2 separate regions of the Homo sapiens genome follow, and region 1 is linked to region 2. Evidence: fine-mapped expression QTL. A gene starts in region 2. The other region holds a variant in brackets. All regions are shown on one strand. Distances are between the middles of the regions. Region 1 overlaps RNF212B (ring finger protein 212B). Region 2 holds the start of PPP1R3E (protein phosphatase 1 regulatory subunit 3E).

Region 1 (5,377 bases), 44 kb before region 2:
CACGCCTGGCCTCCTCTATTCAAATTTTCTAAAATAATTTTTTTAAGTTGGGCTGTTGCTCTGTTGCCCAGACTGCAGTGCAGAGGCACGATCATGGGTCCCTGCAGCCTCAAACTCCTGGGTTCAAGCAATCCACCCACTTCAGCCTTTCAGGTAGTTGAGATTACAGGAATGTATTATCACGCCTGGCTAAATTTTTTAAATTATTTTTTGGCCGGGCATGGTGGCTCACACCTGTAATCCCAGCACTTTGGGAGGCTGAGGCAGGTGGATCACGAGGTCAGGAGTTCGAGACCAGTCTGACCAACATGGTGAAACCCTGTCTCTATTAAAAATACAAATATTAGCCAGGCGTGGTGGCGGACGCCTGTAATCCCAGCTACTCAGGAGGCTGAGGCAGGAGAATCGCTTGAACGTGGGTGGCGGAGGTTGCAGTGAGCTGAGATCGTGCCATTGCACTCCAGCCTGGGCGACAGAGCGAGACTCAGTCACACACACACAAAAAAAATAAAATAAAATAAATCAAAATTATTTTTCATAGAGACAGGGTCTTGCTATGTTGCTTAGGCTGGTCTCAAATTCCTGGCCTCAAGCAATCCTCCTGCCTCAGCCTTGGCTTCCTGAGTCTCTGAGATTATAGGCATGATCACCATGCCTGGCTTAAAGTAAACATTTTCTTTTCACAGCTTAAAATAAACATTTTAGTTTTATTAAAAATGAGGGTTTAAAAAAATAGACTAGAGTAAATTCTTATCTATCTAAAACTAGTTTAGTTTACTTTCAAGTAGAAAGGAAACTCTTAAGTACAATTCTTTAGTAAGGTGGCAAGAGCAATTTGAAAATTAAGTGAGAACAAAAAGTTTATGAGAAGAGTACCAAGATCTAGGAAAGGACCCTAGACAAAAGAGGGTTTATAGTCTGAACAGGGAGGAAGCAGATGAGACGTAAATACTGCTGTGTACTCAAAAGTAGAGCCTGACAAAGCTAAAACACTTTCTAAATATTAACTTTTGATCCGATTCAGCAATCCCATGATAGACACATTAGTATAGCAAATGGTAAAGTGAGGCAAAATAAAAAATTACGTGTGCATGCCCAGAAAAAAAATTCAAGCATAGGTAATCTCCTTCTGTGCCTCTCCACCCTTTCCTATAGCAGCATAAGCAGCCTGCAGGTGACTCTGTAGGTGTCTTTAGGGAAAATAAATTGGTCACCAAGGCTGTGTAATAGCTATGAATGTGGAGGCTGATCCAAACTAATAGTTGACAAGTTAGAACCAATTCTAAGCTTGAAAAACAGTTTTAAAAAAAATCTCTCTTCTTGCACGGGATGAAAAATTATATATTTAAAGGGTCATTCTACTATGGTAGAATATTCTCATTAAGATAGTAAAAGGGGCCGGGTGCGGTGGCTCACGCCTGTAATCCCAACACTTTGGGAGGCTGAGGTGGGTAGATCACCTGAGGTCGGAAGTTCAAGACTAGCCTGACCAACATGTAGAAACCCCGTCTCTACTAAAAATACAAAATTAGCTGGGCGTGGTAGCACATGCCTGTAAACCCAGCTATTCGGGAGGCTGAGGCAGGAGAATAGCTTGAACCCAGGAGGCAGAGGTTACGGTGAGCCGAGATCGCACTATTGCACTCTAGCCTGGGCAACAATAGCGAAACTCTGTCTCAAAAAAAAAAAAAAAAAAGACAGTAGAAGGCTAGTGTCCTGGAAATGAGTGCTGAGCTCTCTAGTTCTGGGAAGTTGTGAATTAGGCCAGATGTTCTAGAAGAAAATGAGCAGTATAATAAAGTGTGATTTGATGGCTTCCCTTTCTTGCCAGAAGTGAAGGGAAAGGAGTTATGGGAGAGTATGTCAAAGGCTTGTTTTTCCCTAGTAGGTGTGGAGTTTCCAGAAGAAACAAACAGATCTCCTCATCGCCTTTTATAAGCATAGAATTACAAAGTTAGAAACAGCCATGCAGGAGGCACAGCAAGCACTGGTGAGCCAGGACAAGTAAGTAACAAATCAAGTCCCAAGAGAGCTTTTTTTTTTTTTTTTTTTCTAAGAAGTGACAGTCCTTATTGTGTTTGCAAAGCCTGGAAATTGCTCCATATGTATTTGTTTGTTTGGGAAAATCAGGTACAGAATTTTTGATCCCCTGAATCTCCATTTTTTCTCTTTCTTCCCTCCAGAGGCCCTCCTCACTTTATAGTTTTCCTCTTCTATTTCTCGGTATCAAAAACTGCTTCCCAGACCAGGTGCAGTGGCTCACACCTGTAATCCCAGCACTTTGGGTGACCGAAGCAGAAGATCACTTGAGGCCAGGAGAAGATCAGCCTGGGCAACACAGCGAGACTCTGTTTCTAAAAAAAAAAAAATTTTAAACAAAAATTAGCCAGACATGGTGGTTCACACCTGTAGTCCCAGCTACTTGGGAGGCTGAGGCCAGAAGATCGTTTGAGCCCAGGA[G/C]TCTGAGTTACAGTGAGCTATGATCACACCACGACACTCCAGCGTGGGTGAAAAAGTGAGACACTGTCTCAAAAACAAAAACAAAAAAAAACATCTGCTTCCTTGGGAAATCAGATATAGCTGATTCACACTGATAACACTCATTGTAGCCTCAATCTCCTGGGCTCAAGCAATCCTCCCACCTCAGCCTCCCAAGTAGCTGGGACTACAAGTGCACACCACTATGCCTGGCTAATTTTTGTATTTTTTTTTTTTTTTTGTAGAGAGGAGTCTCTGCATATTGCCCAGGCTGGTCTGGAATCCTTTTTTTTTCTTCTTTTAAAGTTTTTTTTGTTTTTTTTTTTTATGGAATGCTTCAAGCATTTACATGTTAACTTTCTTTGGGGGCTATGTTAATCTCCTCTGTATTGTTCCAATTTTAGTGTATGTGCTGCCAAAGCAATCACAAGATGGAGTCCTTGATAAAAATTTTTAGACATCAGCAGGCCAGGGGTGTGTGTGTGGGTGGAGAGAGGAAATGGAATTCTTTGCAAATTCCCCTGAAATCATACCAAGTAATTGCTTATTTTGTCCACCTAATTGTTCTCATTATCAAAACCCTGCCATTAGTCTCCTTGAATCATCAAATCCCTGATAGAAATAGCTTGTATAGCTGCAAGCATTTCTCAGTAAGTATTAACTAGATGTTAATAGTTATAATAATAAAAAATCAGGTTTTTAATCCCTGATTTGCTGGAGCTGATTGTTTCCATCTTTTGCCTAGAGAATTGTCAGTCTTAAGGAAGGAGAATGGAGAACTGAAGAAATTTCTAGCCATTCTAAAGGTGAATGAAATAGATTTTCCTTATTATTATTTTCTCTCTTACTTTTCTCATCTATCTAGCTGACTGTATAGAATAGTGTTTCCTAATCTTTTTCTCATCATGGCACACACAGAAATTGATATTTGTATAACAAGCACACTATAGTAAATGGATGAGGTCTCAGCAGACCTTGGGGGACTGAAAGGATCAATATATAGCACACTTGTAACCCATTCCTGAACATCAGTGAGTCATGACCTACCAGTTGGAAAGCTCTCTTATAGAAGAGACAGCTGTTGCAACTTAAACATTTCTCTTCAAGAAACTCAAAGATACCTCAGGACCCTTCCTCTGCATCACACTCTACTTCCTAAATAGTTTTTCTTCCTAAGAATGTTCTGTGTATTTATATAATTTTCCTATTGATCCTACTCCTGTAATTATTCTAGCACATTGTAGTGTGTCATTTTCCTTTCTCTCACCAGAGACTCCGTATTTCCCCACATATGTTAGTCTATGGGATTCCGTATGCACTCTTATGAAGAACTAAACTTTTATCCCCTCAAAGCTAATAATATCCTAAGGAAATACTGCTGCTACTTTTCCTCCTACTGGGAGTCTTAGCAACCATGACTAAGGGGCACTGAGCTTAGTTATCTCGCAAGTAAGACTGAAGATCTGTTGATTAGGATCCTCAGTTGCAGCTTTCTTCACTCCTGGTTTTTTCACCTATAGGAATCTCCAAGTCGGTACCAAGGAAGCAGGTCAGTTTTATCAGCTCCCATACTAGCCCAGCCCCCTGAAAATTCCTGTTCTTTCTTGACTCCTGGCTGTGTGAACTCTGAGAGAGAGAAAATGGTTAATGAATTTAGCTTTCACTTCTCCGAGGAAGAGTTAGTTACTGAAAGTGCCGAAGTAAAATCTTAATTGTAATGCTCACCCTGGATTGTCATCTTATGAAATCCTAGTGTTTGAAATGCTTGTTCCCTGGTGCCATAAAGAAATAGCATTTGAACATAAATTTAATTTACTCAGCAAGGTCATTTTTACTTCCTGCAGAAAGGGTACACTCGCCGGCAGTTTTGCCACGAGAGTACACTGAACAAAGGAGACAGGGTCGTTCATAACCTGACGCGTCTACCTTACTGCTGTGTCCGGTTTCCATTGGCTGGAACCAGACCTCACATTCTGTATTTGTTCCGATTGGCTAGCAACTTAGAACTTATGAAAAGGGGCAAAGGTAGAGGAGAACAAAGGAAGGAGGAAGTAACTTGTGGAATGCTGAGAAAGGTAAAAACACCTTCAAATAAGGAAGAGGAACAGACTATAACCTAATGCTTGTTTGGACCAATCTAAGCATGCCAGGGCAAATATTTAGGCTAAATTGTGGGAGCTAAGAACATAAAGTACATTGATTTCTTTATTACGGCTAGCAGATATTTAAGAATGTTAGTACAGGTCTTTAAATAAATTTTGCTTTTAAGAGAAGTTACTATTTATTCCTAATTAGATGAAGAGGAAAGTCTTTAAAGAGGAACCTCCACCTTACTTTTTACACTACTCATCCTTCAAAATTGAACTCAGTCATTTCCTCTGTGAAGACTGCATTAGGTGGAGTTAGATGGTCTGTTCATTCATTCAATATTAAGTGCCTACTGTTTATCAGGTACCATGTTACAGGCTGGATATATACCACCGGTCCTTTCTAATTAGTGATATCTATGCTCTACCAACTCTTAAATATATTTTTAGTATCGGCTGGGTGTGGTGGCTCACACCCGTAATCACAGCACTTTGGGAGGCCAAGGTGGGCGGATCATGGGGTCAGGAGATTGAGACCGTTCTGGCTAACATGGTGAAACCCCATCTCTACTAAAAATACAAAAACAAAATTAGCCGGGCGTGGTGGAGGACACCTGTAGTCCCAGCTGCTCGGGAGGCTGAGGCAGGAGAATGGCGGGAACCCAGGAGGCAGAGCTGGCAGTAGTGAGCCGAGATCACCCCACTGCACTCCAGCCTGGGTGACAGAGTGGGACTCTGTCTCAAAACAAACAAAAAAACAGAAAACAAAACAAAACTCTCTCTATATATACACACACACACATATATATTTT
Region 2 (5,377 bases):
CAAAGGAAATCAGAATAGTGATTCTTCTGATTCACCGTCCCTCGACAAACAGTCCACAAAGTGCTTGGAGGTTATTAAAAGGCACCCCAGAAAAGTAAGGCTGGCATTTTCCTGGAAGCCCCTGAGTGTACAACCCCTGAGGCTCAGTATTTGGCTATAAAAACAGGTCTGGAGTTGCTTTGGCCTCCGTTTTAATCCCTAAAGCTGCCTGGAGGCTGGAGCTCTGATAGCTACCTGTCATCACTCCCCAGCCAGTCCGCGGACACCGCAGCCAGGAACTGTCAGAGGTGACAAGGGAATCCCGTCATAATGCCAAGGACCAAGGAGCAGTGGCCAGGTTCCTGGGATTAAGCAAGGCAATTATGGCTGAGTTAAAGCTAGGATGGGTAGGACAGGGGGATCTGAGGTGGAAAAGGCCGGTAAGAAGAGGGAATGCGCCAGCAATGTAAATGCCTTCGACTGGGTGGGCTACTTCACATCATACCTCCTCCATCTCCAAAAGGTTCTTAACCTTCTTCAACCGCCTAGGCCTGATGGACCTCCTCCCTTTCTCCCAGAGCCCACTCACTGAAGGGAAGGCCACCATCATCCCCATTCTTTTCCTTTTTTTATAATCCCTCCGGTGCCGTTTCGGGTCTCCTTCCTCCTATATTCTGAGTTCCTTCCACTCACATCCAACCAGCTTTTAACACCCGGATCTCCCGGAGCTTCTTTGGTTCCGCTCACTCCCCCCGCCCCCACGCCCCCACGCCCCCACGCCCCTGATTTCCCCACCCTTTTCGCCCTCCCCGGCTTGACTCCCTTGGACCGCTCCCGCCAATCCTGGTCTCTCCTACTCCTCCCCGCCACATCGGGTCGCCCCGCCCCCGGGTGCCTTTGGTGTTTTCCGCCGTCGGCCGCAGGCGCCTCGTCTCAGATAAAGTGGATCCAGCCCTGCGGCTCCGGAGCTCCGCCACTGCCCGGGTGCTCGGGCCCACGTAGAGCATAGTCACGGCCGCCGTTGTTGTCCCAGAACTCGTGACCTGTCACACGGTAGCGCAAGGCGAAGAGCAGGGCGCCCCCAATCGGCGGCGCGGGCAGGCGGAAGGCGAAGCGGTCGGCGCGCGGCGGGGGCGGGGCCGGACCGGCGTAGGCGGCTGGCGCCTCGCGTTGGCTCCGCCAGCCGTCGGCGCTCCAGCGCACGCTCACGCGCTTCTCGTAGGCCAGGTCCACCACGCGCGCGCTCCCGGCCACGCCCAGCGGGCCCGCCTCGGCGCGTTCCAGGCAGATGCGCTGCGTCAGCAAGCGGGCGGCGAAGCCGGGCTCGCTGGCCGGCTCCAGGGCGGCGCGCGCCTCCTGGGGGAAAGAAGAAGCGGGAGGAGGGAGCCCAGGGCGGAGAGAGGGGAGAGACAGGGGGCGGTGTCAGAGCAAGGCACTGGACCAATCAGAGGCCGACCCCGGCGTCCAGGCCGGCAGAGTGCGGCCCAGCTGCCAGGGTGGCCTAGAGCCACTCGCAGATGGGGTCCCCAAAAGGGATGGGCAGGCGCAAGCCCAGGGATGGGATGGAGATGGGTGCTCTTTGGCAAATCCACTCCCACAAGCCCGCTGCGGCCGACTGGAGGAGGTCCCCAGGAGGGGAGGTGCCCCCGCCGCCTACCTGGAGGCCGCGGGCGCGGGGCTGGCAGGGCGCGAAGTGGCGGAGGGCGTCCCTCTGCAATTGGATCTGCACGTGGCGGGGCACCCGGGGCAGCTCACCGGGACGGAAGCGGCGCACGACAGCCAGCTCCAACCCCAGTGCGTCGGCGAAACGCACTCTCTTGCGGGTGTCTGGGCTACGGCTGCGGGGCGCCCGGGCCCCGCCGCCTCCGGCTGGTGCAGATCGGGCCCGGCGGCCCCGACTCGGTGCGTGAGCGCGGGATCGGGCCCCGAACCGCGTCCCGCCCTCGCCTGGCTCCTCCTCCGGCTCCTCCTCGAGGCTGGGCCGCTGGCTACGGTAGTAGGCGCGCTCCGTTAGCGCGGCGATGAAGCTCAGGTTGCGGGGAATGTCGGTGCCCGGGGGCCGCTCACGGGACATGGCAGCCCCTTCCCCGGCGGGGCCAGCTCGCAGCGCCACCGCGCTCCCCTCTCTTCCTCTCTCCCGCCCGCCCCGCGTCAGCGCAGAAGTCGCTGGGTCCGCTTCTGCAGCCCCTCGCTGCTGTGTATTCTCCTTGCAGACACCTCCAGGATCCTCCACCTCCCGTTGCTTTGCCTCTCCTCTGTGACCACCCTTCCCTCCCTCTGGCCGTCAGCTTCCAGGGTCTTAGACTATCACATCCTGCCTCCTGCTAGCGGTCTGCTCTGAGCGTGCGCTCAACTGCACTCACCCTCCGGTTCCAAGGCCCTCACGGCCCGGGCGCCCCCGCCCACAGCCCTCTGACAGGTGGCTCCGCTTGTCTTCGCTGCTGCACCAGGGGGCGGGGACTCCACCTTTGCGGTCCCGAGTGAAGCTACTCAACCTTTTAAAAAAAACATCCACGGACGGGACGCGATGGCTCACGCCTCAAATCCCAGCACTTTGGGAGGCCGAGGTGGGAGGATCGCTTGAAGCCTGGAGTTCAAGACCAGCCTGGGCGTCATAGTGAGACCCCTGATCTCTACAATAATAATAATAATAAAATGTAAAAAGTCCTCAACTTTTCCGGCACAGCACAGGAAAGGTTAACGCCGGGAAGAAAAAATAACCTTTCATTTTCTTGCAGGGGAAGGTTCAAAACGCCCAGCATGTGACTTTATCTTTGGGGTTCACTGTTTTCTTTTCTGAAACCTAGGCTCCTGGTTTGGGCAGGGGGTGGTGGTGCGTGCAAAGAAGGAAAGGTCATGAAAGCTAGGTAGAGTCTTTCAAATAGAAGGTGAGAATATGGCACCCGAACTGAGAACTGCAGGAAGACCTAGCTTCTAGTGACCTTGAGCAAGCAAGGCATAACTTCTCTGGAGTCAGTGTTCTCGTGTGTGTGTGTGTGTGTGTGTGTGTGTGAGTGTGAGATGGAGTCTCGCTCTGTCGCCCAGGCTGGAGTGCAGTGGCGTGATCTCGGCTCACTGCAACTTCTGCCTCCCCGGTTCAAGCGGTTTTCCTGCCTCAGCCTCCTGAGTAGCTGGGATTACAGGCGTCCACCACCACGCCCGGCTAATTTTTGTATTTTTAGTAGACACGGGGTTTCACCATCTTGGCCAGGCTGGTCTTGAACTCCTGATCTCAGGTGATCTGCCCGCCTCGGCCTCCCAAAGTGCTGGGATTACAGGTGTGAGCCACCCCTGAACTCAGAGCCATACTCTGAACTCAGTGTTCTTATCTGTAAAAAAGTGGTGGAGTTCTGATTTCTAATCCAAGTGTAAGCCCTTTGAGGGCAGGGGCTTTGTCTGATTCATGGTGAGTTTTAGTATATGGTAGGCACTCAAATTATTGAATGAACAAGCACCCAACAACTCTCTTGGAGTTGGGACTGTGGAATTATAGGTCCAGTGGGAGCTTCCAAGAAGGGCAGAGCTGGCTTTTTCCCCTTTCATTTTTTTTTTTTAACATTAGTGAAAAAAAAAAGTGAAGTTGTTTTTAGTTTTTTTCTAACTTTCCTACTGATCTAATATAGCACTTACAATGTGCTAGGTACTGTTGTAAGGGTTTTACAAATACTAACCCATGTAATACAACCATCAGAGGAATAGAGACTATTATGTCTAGTTTAAAGATGAGAGAATTGAGGGAGAGAGGGGAGAGGACTCTTACCCAGGGTCACATAGTTAATAATTGGGGAGGTGGGATTAGGACCTAAACAGTTTAGCTCTAGAGTCCACGCTCTTACCCGCTTGGTTATATAAGATTAAAACATTTAACAATAATAGTTAACATCCTCAGAGTGTTAAAAGAGGGAATATTAGAGTAGAAATGAAGTCTCTAAATTTAAAGCAGCAGGATAGTTTAACTGTAAAACCACAAGTGACTAAGTTGAAAATAAACCATGAGACACATGTTATCTTATTATTATACAATTCATTCCTGTTTACATGCATTCGCACTAGTATTGACTGTAGCAATACTAGTTAGCTAGGACTCATTTTTAAAGCAATATTGACTTTTTAAATTTTACACGTATATAGAATGCATGGATGTATTCTCTTCGTATCATTATATGTGATACAATATATACAATGTATATATTGTATATGCATATACAATATAATATATATAATGCATATAAATTAATGTCTAATAAATCATACATTAATTTATGTTACAATCAAGCTGGCCCAGGAGTTTGAGATCAGTCTGGGCAACATAATGAGATCCCTATCTCTATAAAAAATGAATTTAACCAAGCATGGTGCAGTACACCTCTAGTCCCAGCTACCAGGGAGGCTGAAGTGGGAAGATTGCTTGAGCCTAGACGGTGGAAGCTGAAGTGAACTGTGCTTGTACCACTGCACTCCAGTTTAGGCCATGGAGTGAGAACCTTGTATCACAAACAAACAAATAAACCAGGAGTGCAAATGAAGACTTGGACTAGGTTATTCTCTAAAGAAGAGGGCAACCTTGCTGGTGGCAGCCAGAATGATCAGGCTAAGAGCAAAAATGAAATGAGGATGGTTGAAAGGATACAGCCATAAAGGAGTGTAATAGGCTGTGTGTTTAGAATAGAGGAGAGAATTGAGTATGGACTTGTAAATGGTGTGGATTCAGACTATGAGAACCATATTGACTATGTGAAGGCAAGAGGTGATCTTGAAGCGATAGTGTCAAAGTTACAGCATGAGATGGCTGTGCTAGCTTCTTACATATCAGCCTATGGCTTTGGGAAAATCACTTAACCTCTCCAAACCTCAATTTCCTCATTCATAGAATGAGGATAAAACAGCATAAGGACTGGTGAGAGGAAAAAATACACATGTAAAAAAAGCACAGCATCTAATAACTCCTCAAAATATGTTAGTTTTTACCTTTTTTTTTTTTTGAGATAGAGTCTCGTTCTATCACCCAGTCTGGAGTGCAGTGGCATGATCTCAGCCTCCTGGGTTCAAGTGATTCTCATGCCTCAGCCTCCTGAGCAGCTGGGATTACAGGCTGGCTAATTTTTGTATTTTACGTCTGGCTAATTTTTGTATTTTTAGTAGAGATGGGGTTTTGCCATGTTGGTCAGGCTGGTCTCGAACTCCTGGCCTCAAGTGATCCACCCGCCTTGGCCTCCCAAAGTGTTGGGATTACAGGTATGAGCCACCGAACCCAGCTAGTTGTTACTGTTATTGCTGCAGAAAAGACCTTGCTTCTCCAGTGACCATAAGGGAAGATGGTAATACAGAGGCTTGGATTGGAGGTAGAAGCAAAGGGAGCTAGCAGAATAGGAGAATTAGGTTGCCTCTTTCTGGCCTT

The links. PIP is the estimated chance that this variant, and not a neighbour inherited with it, causes the effect.
Region 1: its variant is fine-mapped to the expression of PPP1R3E in whole blood (TOPMed, PIP above 0.99).

Annotation. Positions count from the first base shown.
Region 1 is chr14:23,256,661-23,262,037 of GRCh38, forward strand. It overlaps RNF212B (ring finger protein 212B), which reads left to right. Exons shown (of 15, transcript NM_001282322.3): 5 at 1,889-2,004; 6 at 3,224-3,284; 7 at 3,999-4,027. It also overlaps the pseudogene RNU6-1046P. Among named protein-coding and RNA genes, the nearest start is that of RNF212B, 21 kb to the left of the region's middle. The variant G/C (reference allele first, on the strand shown) is at 2,461.
Region 2 is chr14:23,300,524-23,305,900 of GRCh38, forward strand. PPP1R3E (protein phosphatase 1 regulatory subunit 3E) reads right to left here and starts at 2,336. Exons shown (of 5, transcript NM_001276318.2): 1 at 1,637-2,336; 2 at 775-1,335; 3 at 235-341. The coding sequence starts at 2,053. The coding sequence ends at 913. RefSeq lists an enhancer at 783-972 and silencers at 1,033-1,462, 1,473-1,532, 1,613-2,122.